2 separate regions of the Homo sapiens genome follow, and region 1 is linked to region 2. Evidence: fine-mapped expression QTL. A gene starts in region 2. The other region holds a variant in brackets. All regions are shown on one strand. Distances are from middle to middle. Region 1 overlaps ARHGAP39 (Rho GTPase activating protein 39). Region 2 holds the start of GPT (glutamic--pyruvic transaminase).

Region 1 (8,928 bases), 30 kb after region 2:
GGTGGGCTGCGATGCAGGATAGATTCTGGATTTACAGTTACACGAAGAAAAAAATACTCTCGCCCCTCCCCCACCCTGCCCCCAGAATGCCTGCCCAGCCCTGCTCCCTACCCCAGAGGACTTTGGTTTGGGGGCCCCCACCCCACCCACCGAGAGCCTGCCAGGCCCCGGGCCCACTGTCCTGGAGCCCCCAAACTCCTGAGCAGTCACCAGCTGGGGACCACGGGCCGAGGGAGGGAGAGGAGGCGGGGACAGGTCGGGAAGCTCTCTCGGGGCTGGGAAGAGCTGCAGGCCAGGACGAGGACAGGAGAAAGGGAAGGAGAGACCGGGGCGGCTGGGCAAGGCCCAGGCCAGGGCGCGCAGGAGCCACAGGGAGGCAGCCCGGCCCCAAGGAGGCAGCGTCGCTCGGCTCCAGGACACAGAAGGCACTTTCTCGGAGCTGACCCGCGGCCAGCGGAGGGCGAGGCGGTGCCCGCGGGAACTGGCCGTGAGGTGGGGGGCCAGAGGCGCCCTCCCCGCCGCTGCTGTGCCCTGGCTGCACCCTCAGACCAGGCAGAAGACGTGGGGAGCGCCGGGGCCAGGGGCCTGGGGGAGTGGAGGGGGCTCCAGGGCTGGGCCGGGCGATTCTGGCCCCTCTGCCGGGAGAGCGAGTGCGGAGTTCGGCCTGGCTGGGGGCGGCAGGACATCCCTCCTGTCCCCGGGCGCCCCCGCTACAGCACACCCTCCATGAAGCTGGTGTCCAGGTGCTGGATGAGCACCCGCAGGAAGGACATCTCCTTGCGGGTGTTCTCGAAGATGACGCGCGGGTCGTCGGACTGGCAGCGCAAGCAGTTGGGCGCCATCACCATGGCCAGGTTGCTGACATCCATCTTGGTGACCGCGACGTTGGCCGGCTGCACGAAGACCTGGTGGAGGAGCGAGGGTGGGCGCGGAGGGGCGGGGGCGGGGCGGGGAGGGGAAAGCAGCGGGGACCCCCGGGGAGGGAAGTACCTGCAGGAAGCGGATGAGGTAGCACAGCACCATGCGGTTGATGCGGGGCAGCGCGTGCACCACGGCCACCGCCGCCTCGGGGCTGTCGTAGTGCGCGATGCACTGCTCGTAGAACTCGTGCGGGATCAGGGGCTCCTCCAGCTCCCGGTACCACAGCTTCAGCAGGGACGCTGGGGACACAGCACGGGGCTCAGCGGCCCTGCTCGGCGGGCACCCCTGGGCCAAATGGGGTCCCGTGGCGGACATGCATGGAGGGGTGCTGTGGGGGACAGGCTGGGAGGGCCGGCTCATTCTGGACAGGGCCCATCTGGCCAGGCTGGGCCCTGACCCCAGAGGGCCTTTCGGCTCCTGGGGGCCTGAACTCGATCCTGGAGGCATGTGGGTCACGCCAGCAGAGTTGTGCAAAACAGGATTTTTCTCAGGAGTCGTCTGTGTAGCCACCGTGAGGGGGTGTCTGCAGAGCAGGCACAGCTGAAGGGCACAGGGCAGAGAGCAGCAGGTGGGGAGTGGGCTAGACATAGCAGGCACGGCAGAAGGGCACAGGGCAGCGAGCAGCAGGTGGGGAGTGGGCTAGACATAGCAGGCACGGCAGAAGGGCACAGGGCAGGGAGCAGCAGGTGGGGAGTAGGCTAGACATAGCAGGCACGGCAGAAGGGCACAGGGCAGCGAGCAGCAGGTGGGGAGTGGGCTAGACATAGCAGGCACGGCAGAAGGGCACAGGGCAGGGAGCAGCAGGTGGGGAGTGGGCTAGACATAGCAGGCACGGCAGAAGGGCACAGGGCAGCGAGCAGCAGGTGGGGAGTGGGCTAGACATAGCAGGCACGGCAGAAGGGCACAGGGCAGGGAGCAGCAGGTGGGGAGTGGGCTAGACATAGCAGGCACGGCAGAAGGGCACAGGGCAGGGAGCAGCAGGTGGGGAGTGGGCTAGACATAGCAGGCACGGCAGAAGGGCACAGGGCAGGGAGCAGCAGGTGGGGAGTAGGCTAGACATAGCAGGCACGGCAGAAGGGCACAGGGCAGGGAGCAGCAGGTGGGGAGTGGGCTAGACATAGCAGGCACGGCAGAAGGGCACAGGGCAGGGAGCAGCAGGTGGGGAGTGGGCTAGACATAGCAGGCACGGCAGAAGGGCACAGGGCAGCGAGCAGCAGGTGGGGAGTGGGCTAGACATAGCAGGCACGGCAGAAGGGCACAGGGCAGGGAGCAGCAGGTGGGGAGTGGGCTAGACATAGCAGGCACGGCAGAAGGGCACAGGGCAGGGAGCAGCAGGTGGGGAGTAGGCTAGACATAGCAGGCACGGCAGAAGGGCACAGGGCAGGGAGCAGCAGGTGGGGAGTAGGCTAGACATAGCAGGCACGGCAGAAGGGCACAGGGCAGGGAGCAGCAGGTGGGGAGTGGGCTGCATTGCACAGGTAGGCCTCGGGGTGCCCAGCAGACACCTGGGGAAACTGTCCAATGGGCAGAAGGGAGGATGTGCTAGAAGTGACTGGGAAGCCATCACATCACTGGGCAGGATCAGGGTGGACCCCAGAGGCGGAGACAGGGGCCCCTGAGAACCACTGCCTGAGCCAGGCCCGCTCTGCTGCAGCGTGTGTGGGGGACTCACCAGGGACGTGGGGGTCTTCCAGGCCTGTGGGCACCTTCCACTGGTCCACCTGCAGCTTCAGGGCATTCACCTCGTCAATGTCCCCAGGGACCCTGCAGGGCACAGGGCAGGTCTCAGGCAACAGGAGCCTGTGCTGCGGCTTCATGATTCCGCCTGGACACTCCCTCCGGTAGGCCCCTGCTGACCCGGGGAGGGGAGCAAAACCTCAGGACCCCCCGCCACCCCGGTTGGCCTCTTTCCCACGAACGTGGGTGGGTGGCGCTCTTCAGGATTCCTGCCCCACACACCTGCGTCCGAGTGTGGTGCTTCCCCAGGCCACCGTCCCTCCCTGGACCCCTGCTGGCTCCCTGGGTGGATGCCCTCACCAAAGGGCCACTGGGGCTCAACCTGCAAGCCTCAGTTTCCCCAGCTGCCCTCCTGGGGCCTGGGTACCCCTTGCCCTGACAGGTGAGTCATGGGAGTGGGTGGCACCCTGTGCCATCCCTGTTCACAGACAAGGGCTGCCTGTCATCTGAGGCTCCCACTCCAGGCTACCCATGGCTGGTGTCCAAGCACGCTCTGGACCCCTGGTGGCCGTCTCTGCAGGGGCGCCCTCCCTGGCTGGCTGTGCTGCCTCTTTGGAATGGGTCCTGCCCTCTCTCCTGGCCTGCACACCCTCAGGGTCAGCTTCCACACTGTGGCCCCACCCTTCCATCTGCTCTCAGGTATGGGTGCGGAAGCAGCCCAGTGGGCCTGAGGCTTAATGGCCCCTGCATGCCACAGATGCATGGTGGACACATGGCTGTGGCCCCCACACCCGGCGCCCGGGGTTGCCGTGGCACCTGAAGATGCCCTCTGTCTGGTCACCGTTGAGCGCCAGCACCTCCTCAGAGAGCCGTGTCTGCACCCAGGGCAGCTGGCGCTCGGGGTAGCGCTCTCTCTGCATGCCCATGACCTCCTGCAGTGCGCTGCCGAACATGGACGGGCTGAACACGGCGTTCTTGGCATGCCGGATCTCCTCCACGTTGGGCTTCTTCAGCCCCTGTGAAGACAGAGGCTCCGTCCTGGTCTGGCCTGGCCATCCTCAGGACCCCCCGCCACCCCGGTTGTCTTCTTTCCCCGAACATAGGTGGGTGGCGCTCTTCAGAATTCCTGCCCCACACACCTGGGTCCGAGTGTGGTGTTTCCCCAGGCCACTGTCCATCCCTGGACCAGCCCTCCTCGCCCCCCAAACCCTAACTCCTCCTGGGCTGCCCCTGGCTCTGCCTCCCCCTCCTCTCATCCCTGTGAACTCCTGGCTCCAACTAGAGCTACGGACAAGCCCAGCTCCCTGGCCAGAGTCACCGTCTACAGCACCAGCTCACAGGGGCCCTTGGGAAGGTGGGAGTGAGTCCTGGGCCGGCCAGGGCTGTTGGGGAGCACAGCAGAGGCCAAGCTAGCTGAGCTGGGGTGAAACTTCCAGAAGTCTGTGGCAGGGCTGAGAGCGCTGGGGAGGGGTATGATGGGAGCAGCGCATCAGAGAGAAGAGGATGTGGGGAAGGGGCCAGGCTCTTGGGACAGGTCCAGGGAACGGGGTCCT[G/A]TCCCTGTGGTGCGGTGTGACTGAGCCCGTTGCCTGCCTTGCTCCTGAGCTGGGGGTCCGGGCCCAGGAAGAGCCCCCGGGGGAGGGTGCAGCCCAGAAGAACACGGGGTCAGCCTAGCGTACCCCGCCACCCGCCTAGGCGGGCTCCATGTGGCACCCTCTGCGCTGCTGCCCCATACCAAACTGCAGGCGGGGCTCCTGGGGCTGTCCACCAAGGGTCTCTGTGTCCCCGCCTGCCCTCCCCGGCCCCCCAGGCGCACCCGTACCTTCTTGGCCCCGGTCAGGGCTGCCTTCTGTAGCTTGTGGTAACAGTACTTGGCATACGTGCTTATCGCCACCCCTGGAAAGGAAAGGGGCCTGATCAGCCTGATGTGGGTGTGTGGGTGTGGGGCCAGGAGAGGGGTGAGCAGACACAGCTCCTTCGAGGGCCCTGGGGGGCTGGGCTGGCCTTGCCCCGGTCACCCCCTGCCCAGCACAGCGGGTCCTCACACTCTCCCAGGCAGTGTCCTTTAGAGCAGAGGCCCAAGGAGCACTTCCCCACCTGCAGAGGGACAGGCTTGGGAGGAACCGCCTGGCAGCTCCACCTGCCCTCCTACGGCCACGCAGGAACAGGAAGGGCAGGACCTGGGTCTGAGGGCCTCTAGACCCCACTGCTCCCTCCCCGGGGCCTGACCCAGGGAGCTGTCCAGGTATTTGACTCTTCTCTGCTTCAGGCCCCTCCCTGGCTTTTAGGCTGTGGGCAGGAGCCCCTGGAGGAGTCATTTCCACCTACCCAGCACCCGCAGCCAGTGCTGGGGGAGGCAGGCACTGAGCTATCTGCACAGCAAGCCCAGCTCTGCTGCAGCCCTGGGCCTGAAGTACCACCTCTGGGCTCTTCTGAAGGACTGAGGCAGCAATGAGAGGGCCCAGTCTCCTTTCTCAAAGGAGGGGCTTCCTAAAACTCAGCCCGACAGCAGGGTCCCTGAGGGGAGGGGCAGTGTGCCTGAGTCAGCACCTGATGAGGGACTCAGGGACCTCAGCCTGGGGAGTCTCCAGACACAGAGCCCAGGGGAAGGTGCTAGAGGGGAGAGGATTCCCAGGCTGGGTCTGGAAGGCGCGGCACCTTCCTGCTCCAGGTCGGGAAGCAGCAGATGAGAGAACACGCCAAGAGAAGCTGTCTGGGGCCAGGGGAGCCATGGACCTCGGACAGATGGACAGGACCCTGTGCTTCTGGACATGAGACCTGCCCCAGCGCCCAGCGCCTACCGCCTGCCAGGGTGAGGGGGGCCTCTGGATCCTGACCCCCAATCGGAACACCTTTGTCTTCTTTGAAGGAGCAGTTTCTGGTGGACAGCTGAGGGCATGGGGTCCTTGGACCAGGTTAAAAAAAAGTGCACACGTGTCTTGAGTCCATCTCTAATTATCACAGAATAGTTGACATGTGACTGCTAAGGAGACTCTTTTTTAGAGGAACCAAAATGAATTTTTTTTTTCATAGACGTTTAGGTCCTAGAAAATCTGTCATGGTCCTTGGGACCACAGGTCTTGGCAGAGGATGTGGCCCCAGCCTCCAGCGTGGGACCATGTGGAACCAAGGGCCCCTCTGGGCAGGCTATGAGGTACCCTTGTTTTTCTAGAATGGATGGTGCCCACGCACACTGGACCCAGGCTTCAGAGCCTCAAGAAGGCAAGGAGGGAATGAGCTTTGCAGGAAGGCGGCAGAAACCCAGGGCCTCAGCTCAGCAGCTGGGACATGTAGTCACTAGGCTGGGGGGCCTGGGGCAGACGGCAGGGCTGGGCCTCCTGCTTGCTGTCCCTGCGGGAAGACAGGCCCTGATCTCCTGTCCCCAGGCCCCTGGTGGGACAAACACCCCAGCCTGAGCCTGCTTGGGACTGGGACACCCTCCAACACTCTGTGACTGGGATACACTGGGGCCACCGCCTCTCAGCTGATGAAGGTGATCATAATGCAGTCTCTCTGTGCCTCAGTTTACTCCTCTGTAGGATGGGGACTGTGACAATGCCTGTCTGTTGCAGTGCTCAGCAGGCAGCTGCCGGTGTCACAACTGTAGTGGGCAGGCCAGGGACTGAGGCCACACTACTTCACCTGCAACTTCACTCTGGGGGTCAGGCTGCCTGTGCCCTAAGGTCTAGGAAGGTGGGGATGACTGCACTCACGCTGCCTCAGGCACAGGGCCAGGCACCAAGGTGTCTGCTGACCTGCAGTGGGATAGTGGGCAGTGCCCATCGCCAGCCCAGGGAGACCCTCACCTGTGTGGGGTGCTCTGCTCTGAGCCCACTGCCCTGATCCGGCCTTGCCTGGACCTCAGCCCTCATCTCCATCCCCCTCCGGCTGTAGGCAAGCCCAGGAGGGACGGCTGCCCACAGAGGCACCAACAGCAGCAGCTCTCCTAAGGCCTGTGCTACTCTGCTCGGGGGCCAGGCCTGCCCCGGGGACCTTAGAGCTACAGGACCAGGTCACAGGTCTCCCAGGCCACCAGGTGTGGCCAGGGCCTCCTGATGTTGACCCTGCTCCCCACCTGACACACCCTGGGCCGCAATGTCCCACTGGGCTCCACTCCAGGCACAGGGGAGTCTGCTCCCTGCTCCGCCTGGCTGCAGCCAGGAGGCTTTTATGGCCAGCGGTGTCGGTCCAGCTCTCAGGCCACCGGACGCCAGCTCAGGTAGGAGCGCAAAGCTCCTTCTACGCTGCCCCAGATGGAGTGGTCTGAGGACGTCTGTGGCCAGGAATCTCACCCCTACATTGCAGCTGGCCCTCTTCTCCCAGGGTCCTGGGTGAGGCCAGGCTGGGTGACTCGGGACTGGGCCAGGGACCCCTGGCACAGACCTGCTGGTGGCAGCCTCGGAGGTGCCAGGGTGAGGACAAGTCCCTAGCCCAGCAGATGCCATCCTGGCATTCCCCACGAGGGCCCTTCGTGCCCCTGTAGCCTCCTGCTGGTCCCAGAGTTGGCCCTAAGCAAACCTCATCCACAGAAAGCTCGCTGGCACTGTTCTGGGCCTGCATGGGCAGCATGCAGTCAGGGATGGCTTCCTGGAGGAAGAGGTGCCTAAGCCAAGTGGTCTCAAAGGAAGTGGAGCAGAGAGGTGGTGGCGGAGCTCTAGACAGATGAGTGGGCGTGAGGCACTAACTGGCAGGACCACACTGCAGGGGTCGGGAGGACGGCCCTGGAAGCCTGTGTGTGCATGGGTGTGAGCGCGGAGCTGACTTGGTCTGACAGCGTAGCTCTCAAAAGGGAGAGCACAGCCCTGGGTTCACAGGGCTTTCCTGAGCCAGGGCCTGGGGGAAGGTAGAGAGGTGGAAGCTGTGTGAGAGTGTGGGTGGGAAGGGTGCTGGTGGGGAGGGTGGGGAAGCCCTCCCCCTGCTTCTGGGGCTGTGCTAGGGGCCCACCATCAAAGCAGGGGACGACTCCTTGCAGATTCTGAACACCAGGCTTGGCTCTTGTGGCCCAGGGGCAGCCCTGGGCGGGAAGACAGGACTGAGGGGTGCTTGTCTGCAGGGCACCACACACCCCTCCACCTGCAAACTTCCCTGTGGGGGTCAGGCCCAAACACTCACCTGGGGGCACCTCCAGGAGCCCTCAGCCGGCAAGTTATCATGCCCCCACCCCATCAAGAACCCAGCAAGCAAGTTGGAAATGGCTCTGGACACCACAAAGACACGTGTGGACAGGCTTGACCGCTCCAGGGGTCCAGTCAGTCACCTGGGCCCTCCAGCTCGCTCAGGAGGCCACAGGCCTGAGGTTAGTGGCCCCATCCCCCCCGCCCAGAAGCGGTTAGAGAAGAGAAGGCCAGGCGGCCGAGGCTGGAGAGCAGAGCTGTGCAGACGCCGCGCCCAGGGGCTGCGGGGAGAGGCCCTACCATCCGGCTCTTCAACATAAGGCTTGGGTTTCTTTCTCAATTTGGACTTCTTCTTAGTGTTTCTTTCCAGGAGCTCTTTTATGTGCTGTGTCACTGGGGAGCAAAGACAACCATCAGCACGACAGAACAAAACGCCAGGAGCCAGCGCCCACTCAGCTCCCGCACTTGGCTGGTGAGCAGGCCCCTGGGCCTGTTGGGGGCTCACCCTGTGCAGCTGGGGGCTGAGCGTTTCTGGGGGGACGTGGCTGTGTGAGTGGCAGAGAGGTGCCGGGGGCCCTTCTGAGCACTGTGTGGGCTGGGAAGCTGCCGTGCCTGTGCTGGCGTGAGTGGAGGTGCAGGGAAGGCGCCAGGGGAGCAGGAGGAGAACACAGGGAAGGCGCCTGGGGAGCAGGAGGAGAGCAGGCAGCTTCTGCCCTCTGGCTGGCAGCAAGGCTGGGGCAGCCATGGCCTGGGCCCCCTGCCTGCCGGTCAGAAAACCAACAGAAACAAGTGGGCGAAGGCAGCTGGCCCCAAGCCAGGTGCTGCAGTCAGAGAGGAGGGGGCTCCCCTCAGGCTGATCTGGGTCTGCCTCCCGCTCTGCACAGCGTAACTCCGCAGTGTTGCCACTGGCCTCGATGACCTAGCTGAGGTCACGGCTGGCAGGCTCCTGTGAGGTACCGTCTCCTCCTCCTGCTCCGTGCCACACTCTGTAGGAGGAGTCACTGTGCCCGGCCCACACCTGAGGGGTGGAGTTAGGCTCCAGCTCCTGGAGGGTGGATATGTACGTAAATTATTTGTCATTATTCTGCACAGATTTGTCTATTCCTACCTATTGAATTACTCATTTATATCAGTATGGACTTAGTTTTTTCTTCTTTTTGAGATAGGGTCTGTGTCACCCAGGCTGGAGTGAGTGGTGCGATCTCAGCTCACTGCAACC
Region 2 (8,484 bases):
CGGCTGCAGGCCGGGGCAGACCTCCATGCCCCCCTGGACCACGGGGCCACGCTGGTGAGGGCTGGGGGGTGAGGGGCACACGGGGCTGGGGGCCTCGCTACTTGGAGGTGGGGGATGGGGCCGAATTCAGGCCGGGCGCTTGCCTGCAGCTGCACGTCGCAGCCGCCAACGGGTTCAGCGAGGCGGCTGCCCTGCTGCTGGAACACCGAGCCAGCCTGAGCGCTAAGGACCAAGACGGCTGGGAGCCGCTGCACGCCGCGGCCTACTGGGGCCAGGTGAGTGCGGGCGGGAGCAGGTGGGAGGGGGCTTCCAGCGCAGCAGTCTGCAGCTCCGGCCTGCCGTCCACAGGTGCCCCTGGTGGAGCTGCTCGTGGCGCACGGGGCCGACCTGAACGCAAAGTCCCTGATGGACGAGACGCCCCTTGGTGAGCTTGCGGGGCCCACCTCCACCTGGGGGAGAGGACAGGCGGGGAGGGCGCCCCTGACGCCTGCGCCCACTTCTCAGATGTGTGCGGGGACGAGGAGGTGCGGGCCAAGCTGCTGGAGCTGAAGCACAAGCACGACGCCCTCCTGCGCGCCCAGAGCCGCCAGCGCTCCTTGCTGCGCCGCCGCACCTCCAGCGCCGGCAGCCGCGGGTGAGCGCCGCCCCCAGCAGGCCCCGCCCCGGGCTTGGCCCCGCGGACGTCAGCCCCGGGCGGAGTGCCAGCCGAACTGGGGGCAGAGTCCGAGGGGGTGGGCGGGGTCCTCCGGGCACTCCCCTTCCCCTCACTCCCTCTCCTCTCTCCTCCCCAGGAAGGTGGTGAGGCGGGTGAGCCTAACCCAGCGCACCGACCTGTACCGCAAGCAGCACGCCCAGGAGGCCATCGTGTGGCAACAGCCGCCGCCCACCAGCCCGGAGCCGCCCGAGGACAACGATGACCGCCAGACAGGCGCAGAGCTCAGGCCGCCGCCCCCGGAGGTGAGCGCCCCGTCCCTGCTCCGCCCAGCGCAGGGGTGGGCCTGGCTCTGCCCTGGTTCTCTCTCCGCTTGGACCCCCTCCTGCCTGTGTCAGGAATGGTGCCCTGCAGGGGCCAGCTTTTGCCCCATCTCTCCTGTCTGTCCCTTCATGACCATACAGCCTGAACCCAAGGCCAGGGAGGGGGGAGGAGCCTCCTGATGGCTCTGGGACCTTCACTGCCCGCAGGAGGACAACCCCGAAGTGGTCAGGCCGCACAATGGCCGAGTAGGGGGCTCCCCAGTGCGGCATCTATACTCCAAGCGACTAGACCGGAGTGTCTCCTACCAGCTGAGCCCCCTGGACAGCACCACCCCCCACACCCTGGTCCACGACAAGGCCCACCACACCCTGGCTGACCTGAAGCGCCAGCGAGCTGCTGCCAAGCTGCAGCGACCCCCACCTGAGGGGCCCGAGAGCCCTGAGACAGCTGAGCCTGGCCTGCCTGGTGACACGGTGACCCCCCAGCCTGACTGTGGCTTCAGGGCAGGCGGGGACCCACCCCTGCTCAAGCTCACAGCCCCGGCGGTGGAGGCTCCCGTGGAGAGGAGGCCGTGCTGCCTGCTCATGTGAGGCTGTTGCTCAGCATGCAGGGGCCCTGTCGCGGGCACAGCCCAAGGCTGCCTCCCCACGGTGCGTGCCCTGGTGCTGCGGGTGCAGCACGGAAACCCCGGCTTCTACTGTACAGGACACTGGCCCCTCTCAGGTCAGAAGACATGCCTGGAGGGATGTCTGGCTGCAAAGACTATTTTTATCCTGCAACTCTTGATAAAGGGCTGTTTTGCCATGGAGCCTCGTTGTGTGTTGTGTGTCTCAGCTGGGTCGCTGTCCCACAGTGGGGAGTGGGTTGTGCTGTTTGGCTGGGGTGCCACCCGTGCCTGTGAGCATGAAAGCCTGTAGGTGCGCGCTGGGGCATGTGGCAGCCCTGGCTGTGTGGGAGTGAGGCTCACAGCCACTGGGCTGGAAGCCTGGGCCTCACCCACTCCCTCCCATGCTCAGCCTCCTGGAGCCTCCTCCGTAACCCTTTGCTCTCCTGAGAGGAGCCAGGTGCTTTGAAGGAGCCTCCATGGGGGCCAGGGCCTAGGGTGTCTGTGCTGAGGGGCGGAAGGTGGGGGTCCCAGGGACCATGGCTTGGAAAGGGAGGTGGTGTTTTCCACAAGACTCTTGTGTCAGAGCCAGAGGGGCAAAACAAGCACAAGGCTGTGTCAGAAGCTCCCTGGGGGGGTTGTGGGTCCCCAGTTCCTGGCACGCAGCCTTAATCCTGGGGCCTGGCTGCCAGCTTCCGCCTGGGCTGGCATAGGGGACACGCAGTTGGCCACTCTGGCTCTGAGCTGGCTTGGCACAATGTGTCAGGGTGAGGGGGCCCCTTAGGGGCCTCAAGCAGGAGGGCTGAGGGCACCGCTGGTTCGTCTGTTCATGGTGGGCGGCTTTGTGTGGCCACCAGTGCTGGGTGGTGTGGGTTTGGGCTGTTCTCCCTCCTGGCTCAGCACGGGCCCGTCAGCCCAGTGTCCTTTGGGCCTGCCCTTCCCCTAGCATCCCTGGTTGGAAGGGTGTCCTCACAGGGCTGTGGGCGGGCCAGGGCTGGCTGCTGGTTAAATTTAGTGTGGGGGGTGGGGCAGCTGCCCAAGGTCCACCTGCCACCAGGGCTGCCACTTGGACTCCCTTGCCAGGGGGCGGGCAGGGGCTGGCTCTGCCTGGGGCCAGGCCCATGTTAACCTGTGCCCCGGCCTGGGGGCCAGAGGGGCAGGCCTGCGCACGGGGAGGCTGTTGTGGCAGCGGAACAGAGACGTGCACGGTGAGAGGCCTGGGGGCCGGCTGTCCAGGGCTCCCGATGGCTTTTCTCCCAGCCAGCAGGATCAGAGGAGCCAAGGTCCGACTTGGGCCTGGCTGGTTGCCCACAGCCCTGCTCAGAGGGCCGGCTCCCTGACCCCCATGGTTCAGGTTTCGGTGCCCGACGCTGGGGTGGGCCAGCGTGGAGCCTGGCCTTTCAGCTCAGCAGGCCTGTGGAGGTGGGGCTCTGACGGCCTATCCCAGCTCGTTTCCTACTCTCTCCTCCAATCGGGAACAAGAGGGCTGGAGAGCTCAGGTCACCCCTAGCCTCGGGTGTGTCCCAAGGGCAACCCCCAGCTGGTGCCTGGTGAAAGGGCATGACAGCAGCCACGGTGTGAGCTGTCCCAGGGCTCAGGGCTGGACTGCCTGGCTCCAGCCCCCTCCCCCAGCCCCTCGCAGTGCTCATCAGGGACCAAGGTCCAGCTACAGAGCTCTTGCAGCCTCTGGGCCATAGCTGCCAGCTCTGGAGGGTCCAGATGGAACCCAGAGCCTGAACACCCCTCCCCTCCCCCCAGCACCCCCTGGATTCCTGAGGCCTGGCTCAGTTAATAGGAGACAGGTCCGCTGGCCCAAGCAAAGATGCGGGTGCCACGAGGGCCAGGCCTCGGCCAAGCCCTGCTGGGGTAAATCCCAGCAGCCCAGGCTCCAGTCTCGCCTCGGGGGTCCCTCCTTGCCAGCTCTGCCAGCCCCTCAGGGCTGCTGGGCACCCCTTCACCTCCTGAGCACCCCAGGTGCTCAGCCCTCTCCCCCTCCCCCCATGTCTAGTCCCTCAGAGCTGTCCGGACTGACGTCTGTACCTACCCCCCATGTGGGTCTCCTGCTCTCCCTTCGTGGGGACACTAGGCAGGCACTGGGCCTTGCCCCAAGCCCCGCCTGCCACCTCACCCACTGCCTCTGCCTCCCTGGGGCAGAGCTGTTCCCAGACGGGTGGGGCGGGGCCCAACTGTCCCCAGCTCCTTCAGCCCTTTCTGTCCCTCCCAGTGAGGCCAGCTGCGGTGAAGAGGGTGCTCTCTTGCCTGGAGTTCCCTCTGCTACGGCTGCCCCCTCCCAGCCCTGGCCCACTAAGCCAGACCCAGCTGTCGCCATTCCCACTTCTGGTCCTGCCACCTCCTGAGCTGCCTTCCCGCCTGGTCTGGGTAGAGTCATGGCCTCGAGCACAGGTGACCGGAGCCAGGCGGTGAGGCATGGACTGAGGGCGAAGGTGCTGACGCTGGACGGCATGAACCCGCGTGTGCGGAGAGTGGAGTACGCAGTGCGTGGCCCCATAGTGCAGCGAGCCTTGGAGCTGGAGCAGGAGCTGCGCCAGGTATGGCCCAGGGCCCCTCGCTGCCCTCCAGGTCACAATGGGGTGGCCGAGTTGGCCCCAGCCCCACTGGCACATGGGACAAGGGCTGAGGGGTTAGGTAGGGCACAGTCTCCCTGCCTGCTCCCCTCCCCTCCCAGGGTGTGAAGAAGCCTTTCACCGAGGTCATCCGTGCCAACATCGGGGACGCACAGGCTATGGGGCAGAGGCCCATCACCTTCCTGCGCCAGGTGAGGCTCCTGCACTGCCCGGAGCACCCCCCCACCCCCAGCCCATGTGCCCTGGCCTCAGCACTCCGTCTTCCCAGGTCTTGGCCCTCTGTGTTAACCCTGATCTTCTGAGCAGCCCCAACTTCCCTGACGATGCCAAGAAAAGGGCGGAGCGCATCTTGCAGGCGTGTGGGGGCCACAGTCTGGGTGAGAGCCAGGGCCAGGAGGAAGCAGAGGGCCGCCCTGCCACTGGAGGAGGGAAGTCCCTTGGGAGGGCTGAGGAGAACTTCACCTGTACTTCCCATCCTGTCCTGCCCGAGTCCAGGGGCCTACAGCGTCAGCTCCGGCATCCAGCTGATCCGGGAGGACGTGGCGCGGTACATTGAGAGGCGTGACGGAGGCATCCCTGCGGACCCCAACAACGTCTTCCTGTCCACAGGGGCCAGCGATGCCATCGTGGTAGGCTGGGCATGGGCACCAAGACATTCCTGACACTGCAGAGGGGGCGCCCAGGGTGGGGGACAGGTGCGGCCCCAGGCCTCGCCAACCCTGCCTTCCCCTTCCTTTCCGCAGACGGTGCTGAAGCTGCTGGTGGCCGGCGAGGGCCACACACGCACGGGTGTGCTCATCCCCATCCCCCAGTACCCACTCTACTCGGCCACGCTGGCAGAGCTGGGCGCAGTGCAGGTGGATTACTACCTGGACGAGGAGCGTGCCTGGGCGCTGGACGTGGCCGAGCTTCACCGTGCACTGGGCCAGGCGCGTGACCACTGCCGCCCTCGTGCGCTCTGTGTCATCAACCCTGGCAACCCCACCGGTGCGTTCCCCGCCGCCCCGCCCCACTCCCCCCGCGCCCACGTTGCGTTCCCCGCCGCCCCGCCCCACTCCCCCCGCGCCCACGGTGCGTTCCCCGCCGCCCCGCCCCACTCCCCCCGCGCCCACGGTGCGTTCCCCGCCGCCCCGCCCCACTCCCCCCGCGCCCACGGTGCGTTCCCCGCCGCCCCGCCCCACTCCCTCCGCGCCCACGGTGCGTTCCCCGCCGCCCCGCCCCACTCCTCCCGCACCCACGTGCGCCCTGGCCCAGGCAGTGCCGGGTCCGCTGGACCCCGGCTGCCCAGCGGAGGGCAGTGCGCCCCCTTGGCTCACCCAGCACTGCTGCCTCCCCGGCACCCCAGGGCAGGTGCAGACCCGCGAGTGCATCGAGGCCGTGATCCGCTTCGCCTTCGAAGAGCGGCTCTTTCTGCTGGCGGACGAGGTGCGCGGCGCGGGGGAGCGGGAAGCCGGGCAACAGTCCGCCCCCGTGACGCCTTGCGCCCTTCCAGGTGTACCAGGACAACGTGTACGCCGCGGGTTCGCAGTTCCACTCATTCAAGAAGGTGCTCATGGAGATGGGGCCGCCCTACGCCGGGCAGCAGGAGCTTGCCTCCTTCCACTCCACCTCCAAGGGCTACATGGGCGAGTGCGTGCGTACGAGGCGGGTGGGGGCTCGCGGGCCATGGCCAGGCCCTCCTCGCCCGATGGGCCACCCCCTCCTCCGCACCTGACCTGGCCGTGCGCAGGTGCGGGTTCCGCGGCGGCTATGTGGAGGTGGTGAACATGGACGCTGCAGTGCAGCAGCAGATGCTGAAGCTGATGAGTGTGCGGCTGTGCCCGCCGGTGCCAGGACAGGCCCTGCTGGACCTGGTGGTCAGCCCGCCCGCGCCCACCGACCCCTCCTTTGCGCAGTTCCAGGCTGTGAGTTGGGGGCAGGAGGGGGTCCAGGTGACCTAATCAGGGGTGGGGGATGCCGAGTGCCGTGCCCTGATGGGCCCTCCCTCCGCGGCCACAGGAGAAGCAGGCAGTGCTGGCAGAGCTGGCGGCCAAGGCCAAGCTCACCGAGCAGGTCTTCAATGAGGCTCCTGGCATCAGCTGCAACCCAGTGCAGGGCGCCATGTACTCCTTCCCGCGCGTGCAGCTGCCCCCGCGGGCGGTGGAGCGCGCTCAGGTCAGGCGGGGGCGGGGCCTGCGGGGTGGGCAGGGGGGGCCGGGCATCCCTCTCTGACGGCTCTCCGTCCACAGGAGCTGGGCCTGGCCCCCGATATGTTCTTCTGCCTGCGCCTCCTGGAGGAGACCGGCATCTGCGTGGTGCCAGGGAGCGGCTTTGGGCAGCGGGAAGGCACCTACCACTTCCGGTGAGGCCTGGCCCTCACTCCCTGTCCCGCCACCCTGGCCCTTCACTCACTGTCAACTCCTTTCAGGATGACCATTCTGCCCCCCTTGGAGAAACTGCGGCTGCTGCTGGAGAAGCTGAGCAGGTTCCATGCCAAGTTCACCCTCGAGTACTCCTGAGCACCCCAGCTGGGGCCAGGCTGGGTCGCCCTGGACTGTGTGCTCAGGAGCCCTGGGAGGCTCTGGAGCCCACTGTACTTGCTCTTGATGCCTGGCGGGGTGGGGTGGGGGGGGTGCTGGGCCCCTGCCTCTCTGCAGGTCCCTAATAAAGCTGTGTGGCAGTCTGACTCCAGGGAGGAAGCGTTGGCAGCTGCGTGGCCCGCTCCCACCTGCCTACCCTTCTTGCAGGCCTGAGTCCCTTCAGAGAAGGGACCTTCCACGGCCACCACCCACCTCTTCCTCCTGAAGACCCCGTGCCCACCATAGGCTGGGTCTTCCCTCTGGCCTCTGGTTGTGGGGCAGAGCCCGTCAGATCACACAGAAATGGGTTGAGAGGGTCCAGAGTGTGAGGAAAGCGCAGGCCCCACACCCCTTTGTGGAAGCCCCCAAGAATCTAGGGAGCCAGGGGCCCAGGTGGCCACCCGAAGAAACACAGCCTTTCCTGAGGAAGGCACAGTGAACTGCCTCCTTCCTGGCTCCCTTTCCTGTGAGGTCCATGTCTTCCCTGGGGCAGGGGGAAATACTAAACCAGCATGGTGCTGGCTGGTCAGGGTGACTGACAGCTCAGGAAGGAAGTCTTGGTTCTCTTACCCAAGGAAGCAGGGGTGGGGCCACTGTCTGGGGGGCCAGAGACCACCTTTGGTGTCATTGTGTGGTGCAGTCCTTCGGCTGGGTGGAGTGGGAGGCAGAGGGAGAGGATAAGGGAGCGTCCCAGGGGAGGGCTGGGGCTGGAGGAGGCAGGGGCTGGGCTGAGCGGGAGTGGGCAGCGCTGTGTCCTGGCCTGGGGAGCATGGCTGAGCACCTACTACATGCAGACACTGCTGGGGGGTCACTCAATCTGCACAGATGCTCTTCTGAAGTAGGCATGATAGTCCCCATTTGATAGACGTGGAAACCTGCAACCCAAAAACCTGCTGAGCTGACAAGAAACCCCCTCAGAGGCCTCGGCAGCCAGAAAAATGCGTTGGGTCCAGTGCCCTCAAGTCCGCCAAGGACAGGGCTGGCTTTAGAGACTCACAAACTTGGGAGATAGGACTGGCCAAGGGCACCTGGTTTTTTTCGCTCTGGAGATGGTTCTTAACCACAGGCCACACACACTTCACAGCCTCATCTGGCCCTCGGGAGCCCCAGAGGGCACAGCTCTGGGCAGGAGACACAGCAGGTGGGCCCCTCCCTTGGCAGGGCGGGCTCGAATCAGGCAGGGTGCTCCTAGCCTTGTCACCGGACACCGAAGGGCGTCACGGGCAGTGGCTGGCGGTGTCCTTCTGAGCTAAGCTGGGTCCTGACCTTTCACACTTCCCTCCTAACTTCCATGGCTCTGTCACCGCCTTACGGAGGAGCTGAAGCCACAGACACAGCAAGGTTGGGGTCCGCACCGGAAGTATCCAGTGGTAGACGGCGGAACCCTTAAGAAACGGACGCCTTCATGCGGGCGGCTGGAGAAGCGGGGGCTGGGCACTGCAGCAACCACGCTTCGGCTGACACCAGGAAGGAAGCACGCCTGGAGCGGATCCGAAACTACTGAGAGGGGCCAGGGCTGGCCGTGGGCGCAGGCCGATCCTTACATTCGAGGCCGGCCCAGCTCTGTAGCTTCCCCCTCTGGGCCTCTCACCCGCGCAGGACCTCGGTGGGAGCGCGCACGTGGCGGGGCGGGGGGCCGCGGGCCCGAGCCCGGACTGGCCACCGGGGGCGCCCGCGAGCTGACGCTCTGGCCCGTTGCGGTCTCTGTGGCCCGCGCGACCTTCCGGCCCTGGAGCCGGTGGCCGCGGGGCTCCAGCGACG

What was found. PIP is the estimated chance that this variant, and not a neighbour inherited with it, causes the effect. A credible set is the group of variants that fine-mapping cannot tell apart.
Region 1: its variant is the best candidate, but not a certain one, in a credible set for the expression of GPT in lung (GTEx, PIP 0.75).

The regions. Positions count from the first base shown.
Region 1 is chr8:144,529,712-144,538,639 of GRCh38, forward strand. It overlaps ARHGAP39 (Rho GTPase activating protein 39), which reads right to left. Exons shown (of 12, transcript NM_025251.3): 7 at 8,010-8,102; 8 at 4,418-4,491; 9 at 3,415-3,614; 10 at 2,594-2,685; 11 at 991-1,160; 12 at 1-905. The coding sequence ends at 711. Among named protein-coding and RNA genes, the nearest start is that of C8orf82, 5.1 kb to the left of the region's middle. RefSeq lists a silencer at 267-366. The variant G/A (reference allele first, on the strand shown) is at 4,152.
Region 2 is chr8:144,500,338-144,508,821 of GRCh38, forward strand. GPT (glutamic--pyruvic transaminase) reads left to right here and starts at 3,803. Exons shown (of 11, transcript NM_005309.3): 1 at 3,803-4,129; 2 at 4,267-4,356; 3 at 4,434-4,542; 4 at 4,661-4,794; 5 at 4,909-5,152; 6 at 5,511-5,590; 7 at 5,658-5,794; 8 at 5,895-6,069; 9 at 6,164-6,319; 10 at 6,394-6,506; 11 at 6,573-6,835. The coding sequence starts at 3,968. The coding sequence ends at 6,663. PPP1R16A (protein phosphatase 1 regulatory subunit 16A) reads left to right here. Exons shown (of 12, transcript NM_001329443.2): 7 at 1-54; 8 at 150-275; 9 at 349-424; 10 at 505-634; 11 at 792-957; 12 at 1,183-1,784. The coding sequence ends at 1,566. LOC101928953 (a long non-coding RNA gene) reads right to left here and starts at 5,137. Exons shown (of 5, transcript XR_007061149.1): 1 at 5,035-5,137. RefSeq lists enhancers at 1-140, 3,451-4,111, 7,214-7,343, 7,654-7,783 and silencers at 508-867, 2,529-2,823, 8,284-8,484.